Linked DNA regions of Homo sapiens: region 2 is linked to region 1. A link means that fine-mapping ties the variant in region 1 to the expression of a gene that starts in the linked region. Tissue or cell type: whole blood. Region 1 holds a variant in brackets; the other region holds the start of a gene. All regions are shown on one strand. Distances are between the middles of the regions.

Evidence for each region.
Region 2: CEP72 starts here. The variant in region 1 is fine-mapped to the expression of CEP72 in whole blood (INTERVAL, PIP 0.91).

Annotation. Positions count from the first base shown.
Region 1 is chr5:657,950-663,322 of GRCh38, reverse strand. TPPP (tubulin polymerization promoting protein) reads left to right here. Exons shown (of 4, transcript NM_007030.3): 4 at 1-3,461. It also overlaps a transcript of CEP72 not described here. Among named protein-coding and RNA genes, the nearest start is that of TPPP, 33 kb to the left of the region's middle. RefSeq lists an enhancer at 741-910. The variant ATATG/G (reference allele first, on the strand shown) is at 3,115.
Region 2 is chr5:609,899-615,271 of GRCh38, reverse strand. CEP72 (centrosomal protein 72) reads right to left here and starts at 2,932. Exons shown (of 12, transcript NM_018140.4): 1 at 2,829-2,932. The coding sequence starts at 2,910. It overlaps CEP72-DT (CEP72 divergent transcript), which reads left to right and starts at 3,062. Exons shown (of 3, transcript NR_103444.1): 1 at 3,062-3,120; 2 at 3,519-3,825. RefSeq lists enhancers at 2,149-3,078, 3,079-4,009.

The sequences.
Region 1 (5,373 bases):
GCCCAGCCCTGTGCCCCCGCTGAACCTGGCTGGACCGCGTGTGAAAGGCAGAACTAACGTGCGGAAACATTTGAAAACAACTCTGAATGTGCGGTTCGGAATCACCCGATCACAGACGAGCGGTCACCGGAATCGCCCGGTCACAGACGAGCAGTCATCGGACTCACCCGATCACAGACGAGCGGTCACCGGAATCGCCCGATCACAGACGAGCGGCCACCGGAATCGCCCAATCACAGACAAGCAGTCATCGGAATCACCCGATCACAGACGAGCAGTCATCGGACTCACCCGATCACAGACGAGCGGTCACCAGACTCGCCCGATCACAGACGAGCAGTCATCGGAATCACCCGATCACAGACGAGCAGTCATCGGACTCACCCGATCACAGACGAGCGGTCACCAGAATCGCCCGATCACAGACGAGCAGTCATCGGAATCACCCGATCACAGACGAGTGGCCACCGGAATCACCCGATAACAGCCCATCACAACTCCAAAGCCCTTGTGTTGAAAAGGCCGAGGACGAGTGGTCACCAAACAGGGTGGCTCCCCAGGTCCCGAAGCCTGAGACCCGGAAGGCCCTGGCACCCTTACACCCTCGGACTCCTGCCCTCCTCGGCCTCCCTGGCCCCAGCGCGGCTCCACCCTGGGCTGCGTCTCCTGGTCACAGGCTGCGTTTCTCCTTTCTGTCCGTGGGCAGCCCAGTCCCCACAGTCACGGCCAAGCCACGCAGAACGAACATGACTCCAGAGGACCTCGCCCTGGAGCTGAGCCTGGCGCCGGGTCAGGACGGAGGGAAGGGCGGGTTGGGGTCCGCGGGTCCTCACACCGCACGGCAGGCACAGAGGCTCGCCAGGCCCTGATCCGGTCTGTGGGGACGAGGGACACTGAGGAGAGGTGCTGGGCACCAGGACGCTGCCTCCTGGTCCCTGGTTGGCCTCAGACAAGCACGGCCTCGAGAAAAGAGCCAAGCGCATCGGGAGCACACCAGAAACCGGCCCTGAGCACGAGAAGAGCCTCCGCCCGGCCCGGGCACCACCCGACCTCGCAGGGAGCAGGCCCTGTCACCGACGGGTCACCTCGCCCACACGGCCAGCACCGACTCACCACAGCCCTTCCCAGACCTGGCTGGAGTGGCCGGAGCGGCGGGGCTCATGGCTCCCATCTTGGCCCCTGGAGGTGAGCTCATTCACAGAAGTGGTCCCTTCACTCTGAGAGAGAAAATCGTGGCGTGCATCCCAAACCCTAGGCCACGCCTGTGGGTTTCGTGAATGAGATCGAGGCTGCTGTGGCACCCTGCCCGTCCTGGCCTGGAGCACCCTGGGATCCTGGAGGGAGAGGCCCCACGCCCCCACTCTCCCTCCACACTTCCAGGGTTGGTGCCCACGAGTTAGAGGCACGCCCTCCCCCAGCGGCCCTCAGGCTTTTCTCAGACATGCGGGAGCCAGGAGAGCACCCTTCTCCACTCAGCTCCAAAGCGAATCTTTGAAAACACCCACTCGGCTCCCATCTCTGTCACCTAGCCAGGAGGGGTAGCAAAAATAAAGTCACGAGGACATAGTGGTCACCACTGTCAGTTACAACTTGTCTGTGGAATCCGTAATTGCATCTGTGTGCCGCCTCCGAACACAGAACATTGTTTGGACGGCAGCCCCACTGCACATAACAGACCCGTGCATCTTCCTCAGTCAGTTTCTGAATATTGTGAATTCAGGCAGGTGTGTGTTCTCTTCTGCATGTTTTTATGCACTGCCAATTAGCTTCTACTAACCACGGTTCAACAGAAAATAAATGTGTATTTGTGAATAACAAACTGCACAACCTGCAAACCAGGAGAGAGGGACAGGTTCTGTCAGGGGTGACACCAGGACACAGGGACAGGTTCTGTCGGGGGTGACACCAGGACACAGGGACAGGTTCTGTCATGGGTGACACGAGGACACAGGGACAGGTTCTATCATGGGTGACACCAGGAGAGAGGGACAGGTTCTGTTGGGGGTGACAAGAGGAGACAGGGACAGGTTCTGTCGGGGGTGACACCAGGAGAGAGGGACAGGTTCTGTCAGGGGTGACACCAGGAGAGAGGGACAGGTTCTGTTGGGGGTGACACCAGGACACAGGAATAGGTTCTGTCGGGAGGACAGTGCTGATCGTGTCTCAGCATCAGGAAAGGAGAAAGGCAGAGGGAGAGCGCTGAGAAGACTGTTCACGCCAGAGTGCTTATTTATTTTTAATTTACTGCTATAGGATAAGCAACCAGGTAGTGTTCCTAACAATTAGCGTTACCAAAATTAAAGTTCAAATTATATGTTTAAAATATTGTAGAAGATATATATTTATACTGGACTACTTTTACACCTTCTAATATCCTGTCCAAGTTTGGGCGCAGATGGTGGAGTTGGGCTGGCATCATGTCCTGTGGCCGCCCCACTTGCCTGTTGGTGCCACTCCATCCCGGGCCCCAGGGATGCCAGCTCAGGGCTGACCACAGCAGCCCTGCGTGGGCATCACCTCCTACCCCAGCCCCCATCCTGGGCTGCTGCGGCCGCCTGCTTTTGTGAATGGTGTTTTGTTGGCACAGGGCCTGTCCTGTGTTTTCACACAGGCCTGTGGCTCCTGCTGTACAAGTGGAGTGGGGAGGAGTTGAGATGGAGATGCCTTGGCCCTGGACACTTACCTGTCCCTCTACTGGCCCAGCTCATCTCCTCCTGTGGGCAATCACGCGTGCACTGGCCACCCTCCCACCCCACAGCACACACCACGAGGGGATGGCACAGGGGGAAGATGAGGCTGGACCGTGATGTTATCAATAGGCTAGAACGTCCTTCAAACACTGAACCTGCATCTTTCCTCCTCTTACTACTGAACACTTTGTGAGCTCTGGTGGTCCAGGGTGCAGCGTTTGTCCCTGGGCATGTGATGGGGAGTCCTGGGCACATCGAGATGCTTTACTTCTTTCTTTCGACCTCTTAAAAAACTAAACCAAGCCAAACCACAAAGGAAATCTGCACAACTTAAGAGAAACTTGAAAGGGATCGTGTAACTACTAGTTTGTACTAAGTTTTTTTCAAGAAAGGGAAACAAATTTATATATATATATATATATAT[ATATG/G]TGCAATATATTTTTACACTGTGTGATTAACATTAGGGAGTACTGAGTGCATCACTTTATCAGTGTGACGGGTGATGTCCACGTCATGGCTGTTCTGACTCTGAAAGCCACTTCTGCTGATGTCTAAACCGCACTCACCGCGGACGTCCGCGGGGTGGGGTGGCCCTGCTGTTCCTCCTGCAGGTGAGAGGTGTGGTGTTGCCTGTTGGACTTGCTGTTGAGCCTGGCTTGCAAACCTGTAGTGAAACAGCTCGTGTCTGTGTGCACACTGCTCCTGTGTCTGCTGTCGTTAACATTGTGTGTCAAGTTGGTAAAGTGACAAATAAAGGTGTTAAAACATGGATTTCTCTGTTCCTCAGAGCACACGTGTCTGTAACAGGTGATAACAGGGGATAGGTACTGGAGGGGCCCCAGGTGGGGAGTGTGCTGAGTGCCTCCACTGGGCTGAAGCTCACAGGGCCAAGGCCCTTGTGTCGCCTTTTCCCGAGGGAGTCTCTCGCTTCCTCATCTAGACAGGAGGACCGTGAAGGAGGAGCAGGCGGACCAGCCATCTGTCAGGTGTGAGTCCTGCTCTAGCACTGGTGTAGCCCTGGGTGGGGTCTAGATTCAAGGGGAATGGACATGAACACTGTGAACACCACCAGAGCCCCCAAAACAGGACAATGTCATCACAGGCTGCTATAAAAAAAATGCCAACCTGAGATACTAGCCCAGCGAAACAGTTTTCCAAAATGAGGATACAATAAAGGCATTTTTGGACAATGAAAAGAGAATTTGCCACCAGCAGACATTTAAAGAAATTCTAAATGCAGAAAGCAAAGGTGATCTCAAATGGCATGTCTGGTTTGTGAAGAAAGTGGAGCAAAGAGAATAAATAGGTCAATAACTCCAAATTAACAGTGGCTATATCAATACTTTGTGAGATTAAAATGTTTCATAAAAATACTTGGGAACCCCCACAGGTGAGCAGAACAGGAGCATGGAGAGGGACGCGCGCCTCGCGCTCCAGGAACCAACCCCAGAGGTGGGTGAGAGCATGGACTAAACGCACACATGCCATAAGCATGGGACAGAAGCAGAGTACAGTCTCCAAACGAGCAGAGGGACATGCGGGATGACAGGAGATCATCCAAAAGTGGCAAAAGTGAAGAGGGAAAAAACCATGAATAGAACAAACAGCACAAAATGAGATGGCAGATTTAAACTAATGAGATGGTGGATCAATCAGCTTCGCTGAGGCCGGGCGCGGTGGCTCACACCTGTAGTCCCAGCACTTTGGGAGGCCGAGGCGGGCAGATCACAAGGTCAGGAGATTGAGACCATCCTGGCTAACACAGTGAAACCCTGTCTCTGCTAAAAATACAAAAAATTAGCCAGGCGTGGTGGCGGGCGCCTGTAGTCCCAGCTACTCGGGAGGCTGAGGCAGGAGAATGGCGTGAACCCGGGAGGCGGAGCTTGCAGTGAGCCGAGATCACGCCACTGCACTCCAGCCTGGGCAATAGAGCGAGACTCCATCTCAAAAAAAAAAAAAAAAAAAAAAAAAAAAAAAAAAAAAAAAATCAGCTTTGCTGATAAAACAAGAGAAAGAAACACAGAACAGGGAAATTGATAAAATAATATTTTAACCCATATTTATTTGTAATTTCAGCATGGCTAATGATAGATCAGATCAGAAATTGAAAAGAAAATGGAGGCAAAGGGTGTTTCTTTGAAAGGACTGAAGAGAAAGTTCAAATAACGAATATGAAGAATGGCCAAGAATGGGCTGAGTCCCCGGGAGGCAGATGCTGAGGTGGCCTTTGTATCACAAGAGGCTCACTGGTGAGGAATGCCCCTGAACAGCAGCAAGGGGAGGAGGCCGGGAGGCCTCAGGGAGGCTCTGGAGATGACCTGCTAGGGAGCTCCCTGTGGTTCGCATTAGGCCCAGGCCCTGCCTGCTTGGACACTGGCTGCAGCTGCCTGGATGAGTGTGTCCTCAGCTCCAGAGCCCAGGCACAGCCTGACAGCATGGTGGCTGGAGATGGTCTCTACCCCTGTACTCCCTGCCCCTGGATGGCAAGGTCTCGCTTGAAGGGACACAACTGTCCCTACATCTCTGCCACAGGGACACACACAACTTCAAATGTTGAAGCCATTCAAATTATGTGTGTTATACCCCCCAAAATGGAAAATTAAGACAATATGGACCAATTCTTAGAGACACATAACTTACAAAAACTAACTCGAAAAGAAATGGAAAGCCTGCTCAGCCCTGT
Region 2 (5,373 bases), 48 kb after region 1:
CCCAGCTACTCGGGAAGCTGAAGCAGAGGAATCATGTGAACCCGGGAGGCAGAGGTTGCAGTGACCCAAGATCGTGCCACTGCACTCCAGCCTGGGGGACAAGAAGGAAACTCTGTCTCAAAAAAAAAAAAAAAAAAGAGGAAGACTACATATACTAAAAGGGTCAGTCCACTAAGAAGGTATAAAAATCCTAGCTATGTAATTCAACAAACAGAGCTTCAAAACATACAAAGTGAAAAAAAAAACAGACAAATCCACAATTACAGTTAAGGGTTCCAGACCCCTCTCTCAGTCATTAATAGAGTCACTAGACAGAAAATCAGCAAGGATACAGAAGAACTGAACAATATCACCAACCAACAGGATCTAATTGATATTTATGTATTTACATAACACTCCACTCAACAACAGAATACACACACACTCAAGTGCACCTGGAACATTCAACAACATAGACCAGATGCTGGATCATAAAACAAACCCTGACAAATTTAAAAGAATTAAAATCATACAGATTATGTTCTGGCCATAATGGAATCACACAGAAAAATAACAGGAAAATATCCACACATGGAACGTTAAAAACATACTCCTTAAAAATCCACAGGTCAGGCCGGGCGCGGTGGATCATGCCTGTAATCCCAGCACTTTGGGAGGCCGAGGTGGGCGGATCATGAGGTCAGGAGTTCCAGCTACTCGGGAGGCTGAGGCAGGAGAATGGCATGAACCCAGGAGGCAGAGCTTTCAATGAGCCAAGATTGCGTCACTGCACTCCAGCCTGGGTGACAGAGCGAGACTCCACCTCAAAAAAAAAAAAAAAAAAAAAATTCACAGGTCAAACAGGAAGTATCGAGGGAAATTCTTAAAATACGCTGAACTGGATGAAAATTAAAATACAACATAACAAAATTTGTGGATACAGCTAAAGCAGTGCTTACAGGGAAACTTGTGGCACTGTTTATAATAGAAAATAGGAAAGTCTCAAATCAATAATCTACAGTTTTGCCTCAAGGATTTAGAAAAGTATAAAATAAATGCAAAGCAAGCAGAAAGAAGGAAATAAAAAAAAGCAGAAATCAATGAAATTTGAAACTAGAAAAACACTGGAGAAAAATCAAACCCAAAGTCGGTTCTTTGAAACTATCAATAACATTCACAAGCCTCTAGCAAGACTAAAAAAGAAAGAATACACAGATTATCAACATCAGGAACAGAAAAGGGATATCCCTGTAAACCTTGTAGCACTAATCAGGGAAGAAGGGAGGACTCGGCATGTCCCGAGGTCAGCTGCCCTCTCACCTGCTTCCTCAGAGCCCTGTGGTGCCTACTGCCTCAGGATCACTTGGATTTTGTCACGAGGTTACAGTTCCCCTTAACCACTCTACAGATAATAACCTGGACATTATAAACCGTTAAGTTTTCCATTTGAGATATTCTTTCAGGACCTGGGGACTGATGCCAGCTGGTCTAAAGGGCCCCGCAAGCGGATTCACCAAAGAATGCAGTTTCCACACCCTGATAATTCCATGGCCCTTACCTCCACCAACTGACAACACCAATCTTCCAGCTCCTCACAGTCCTGTTCCTCTAAAACCCCCAGCTCAGGCTGGGTGTAGGTGGCTCATGCCTGTAATCCCAGCACTTTGGGAGGCCAAGGCAGGTGGATCACCTGAGATCAGGAGTTCAAGACCAGCCTGGCCAACATGGTGAAACCCCGTCTCTACTAAAAATATAAAAAATTAGCCGGGCATGGTGGCGCGTGCTTGTAATCCCAGCTACTCAGGAGGCTGAGTGAATCACTTGAACCTGGGAGGTGGAGGTTGCAGTGAGCTGAGATTGTGCCACTGCACTCCAACCTGGACGACAGAGTGAGACTCCGTCTAAAAAAAAAAAACCGCTCAGATCTCCTTGGGGAGATGGATTGAGGCCTCCTTCCACCTCCCTGCTGGGCCCCTGCCAGCCTTAAACTCTTTCTCTGCTGCAAACCCCACTGTCTCAGTGTATTGGCCTGTGGCCCCCACAGCACCTGACTGAACCTGTTGGTCCAGTAACACCTGCAGACCACACACAGACATTAACAGGCTAACAACAGAACACCAGAAACAACTCAACACACACACTCCACAAGTTAGCTCAAATAAGCCAATGCCACAAAACCCCACACAGCCAAGACTCGCGGTGAACTAATATGAACGGTTCTCTAACAACCAGAGATACAGAATTTGTCATTTAAAAGCTTCAAAAACAGAAATTGACATGTCCATATGGTTTCACTGGAAAATTCCAGGAAACATTCAAACAATGAGCACACACTCTACAGAACCTCTTCTAAATATAAGAGAAGGCAACACTTCTCAGCAGTTTATGAGCTCGGCTTCACCTTGACGCCAAAACCAGACAAAAATAAGCCAAAAAGAAGGAAACCGGCCACCAACATCCTCAAGAAGGCCGAGCGCAACAATCACCACAGAGTGGGCCCAGGAGAACCAGGGAGGTGATCCCCAGCGGGAGGGCGGGCTGCGCTCCTGGACAGCAAGGCCGGCTCCCTCTTCTCAGCGGATGTAACCCCCAGTCACGGAACCAGTGACCCGATAGACAGGCAGGGGCCGGGACGCCGGGACCCGAACGCGGGCAGGGGCCGCACCTGGGCACGGGGGGTGGGTCGCTCACCTGGACACGCGCGCCCCGCTCGCCCGCGACCGTTCCGGACGCCCGCGGCGCCTGCGTAGACGGGTCCCGCCTGCCCACGGTCCGCCGCCGCCCCGGGAAGCTCGGCACCCACCCCCCCGCCACCTCACGCTTGCACCCCCGCCCGCCCTCCGGCGCACCCAGGTCGCGGTGAGGCCCTAAGCCGCTCTTCGCCCGAACCGCCTCCTCGCTCAGCACCAGCCGAGGGCCAGCCCGCGCCATGTTTCAAACGGAGCCCTCGGACGGCGCCTGCGCGGCGGGCGGGGCGAGGCTACGAGAGGGGCGGGACCTGCGTCGGCAGAACCGAGAGCCTGGCGGGACGGGGCGGGGCCTGCGCGGCGGGGCGAGGGGCGTGGCTGGGGGAGGGGGCGGGACTGCGTGGGCGGAACCAAGAGCCTGGCGGGGGGTTCTCCTGAATGGCGGTTCTCCCAGGTACTGGCCACGCGACCCCAGCCCCCGCCCCAGATAGCTCCCTGTCAAGGCTTCCCTGGGCGCGGCCGCCTTCTAGGCCCCGGCCCTTGACACACGCGGTGTCCTCCCGGGGAAACCCCGAGTAGGCGCGGTGGAATCGCGGCTGGTGGTGGGCATGGGGACCCTGCCCCATCCACACTCCGCTCCCACCCTGAACCCAGCGCCCCCGGGGACCCCCGACTCACCTAGACTCCCCACCCAACCCGACCCCCCCGCGGGGACCCCTCCAGACACCCCAGCACCCGCCCGGAGCCTTGTCTGCTGCACCTCCCGTCCAGCCCCGGGCCTCCCAGAGGTGGGCGGGAGCTGAGCTTCTCCCCAGCCAGTCACTCCCCACGGCCGGTCCTTCTCCACCCCAGAACCTCCAGAGATGTCACAGGCCCAGCACTGTGGCTCGTGGCTGACCGCGCCCTGGAGGGTCTCGCTGTGTTTATCCTTGTGAGGTCCTTCTACAGAGCTTTCAAGGAAGACAGAGTTCAGCCTGTTTATTGGGAAGACTTTAATCCTGCTCAAGACATCTACTGTGTCACCGTACCACTGTGGCCCAGCGCCTGGTGGAGTGAATCCAGACCCCCAGGGGTGTCCCCTCCCCGCCTTTCTCCTGGTGTCTAGGGGCACCCAGAAACCCTCACCCCAGATTAGACCAGCTCGTTGGCAACATCCCTGGTATGTCACAGCCTGGGGGGTGATAGACAAGGCAGGGTAGTGGTGGGGGGTACGTATGGTGGTAGTAGACGAGGGTATACACAGACAGAGGGTGTACATGGGGAATGTGTGCAGGGGCTGTGTGCAGGGAGTGTGTGTGGATGGTGTAGGGGAGTGTGTAGGGGAGTGTGTAGGGGGTGTGTGCAGAGGTTGTACACGGGGTGTGCAGGAGGTGTACTCAGAATGTGTTCAGGGAGTGTGTGCAGAAGGTGTACATGGGGTGTATGCAGGAGGAGTGTGCAGAGGGTGTACATGTAGGGGGTGTGTGCAGACAGTATACAGAAGGGGTGTGTGCAGAGGATGCACACAGGGTCTCTGCAGGGAGTATGTGCAGTGCTGTACATAAGGAGTATGCAGGGGGTATATACAGGGTGTATGTGCAAGGGGTGTGTGCAACAGTGTGTGCAGGAGGTGTGTGCAGGGTCTATGTGTGGGGGTGTGTGCAACAGTGTGTGCAGGAGGTGTGTGCAGGAGGTGTGTGCAGGAGCTATGTGTGGGGGTGTGTGCAACAGTATGTGCAGAGGTGTGTGTAGGGGCTATGTGTGGGGGTGTGTGCAACAGTGTGTGCAGGAGGTGTGTGCAGGAGGTGTGTGCAACAGTGTGCAGGGGGTGTACACAAGGTGTGTGCAGGAGGTGTGTGTAGATGTGTGTGCAGGAGGTATACACAGGGTTTGTGCAGAGGATGTGTGTGGGAGGTGTGTGCAGGGGATCTGTGCAGGGAGTGTACACAGGCTGTGTGCAGAGGCTATGTGCAGGGGGTGTGTGCAACAGTGTGCAGGGAGTGTACACAAGGTGTGTGCAGGAGGTGTGTGCAGAGGTGTGTGCAGGAGGTATACATGGTGTGTGAAGGTATGTGTAGAGGTGTGTGCAGGGGGTATACACAGGGTTTGTGCAGAGGATGTGTGAGGGAGTTGTGTGCAGGGGATCTGTGCAGGGAGTGTACACAGGCTGTGTGCAGGGGGTATGTGCAACAGTGTGCAGGGGGGGTGTGTGCAGAGGTGTGTGCAGGGGGTGTACACAGAGGGTGGTGGCAGGCGGTGGATGCAAGGCTGCATCTGTTCAGCCCAAGACGTTCCATTGGTCCAGTGGTGTTAGAGCACATTTGGTCAGGTTGCCTTCATGGGATATTTGACAAGCTGCAAACCCGAGGGCATGCTGGTGCCCGAGGGCGCCTCCGTGCTGACCTCAGCATGTGCAGCAAGAGCCAGGGCACAGGGGCGGCCTGGCCCATTTCAGGCAGGTGCTCTGTGGGAGGGTGGCTGTCTCCACTGACAACCCAGGGAGGTCAGCAAGGAGGAGCCCTGAGGTGGACTCGAAAGCTGTGGGAGCTGATGGCCCTCCTGGTCTCTGCCACAGCCCTTAGGCTGTGGGACACACAGCGTCACATTTGATCACTGTTCATGGGGCCTGCCGAACACTCAGCATTCCTGAGTGCAGATCGTCACGTAACTTTCCAAAAATTGCAAACCCAGATATGGCTCCATGACCCCTCCTGCAAGACTGTGAAGG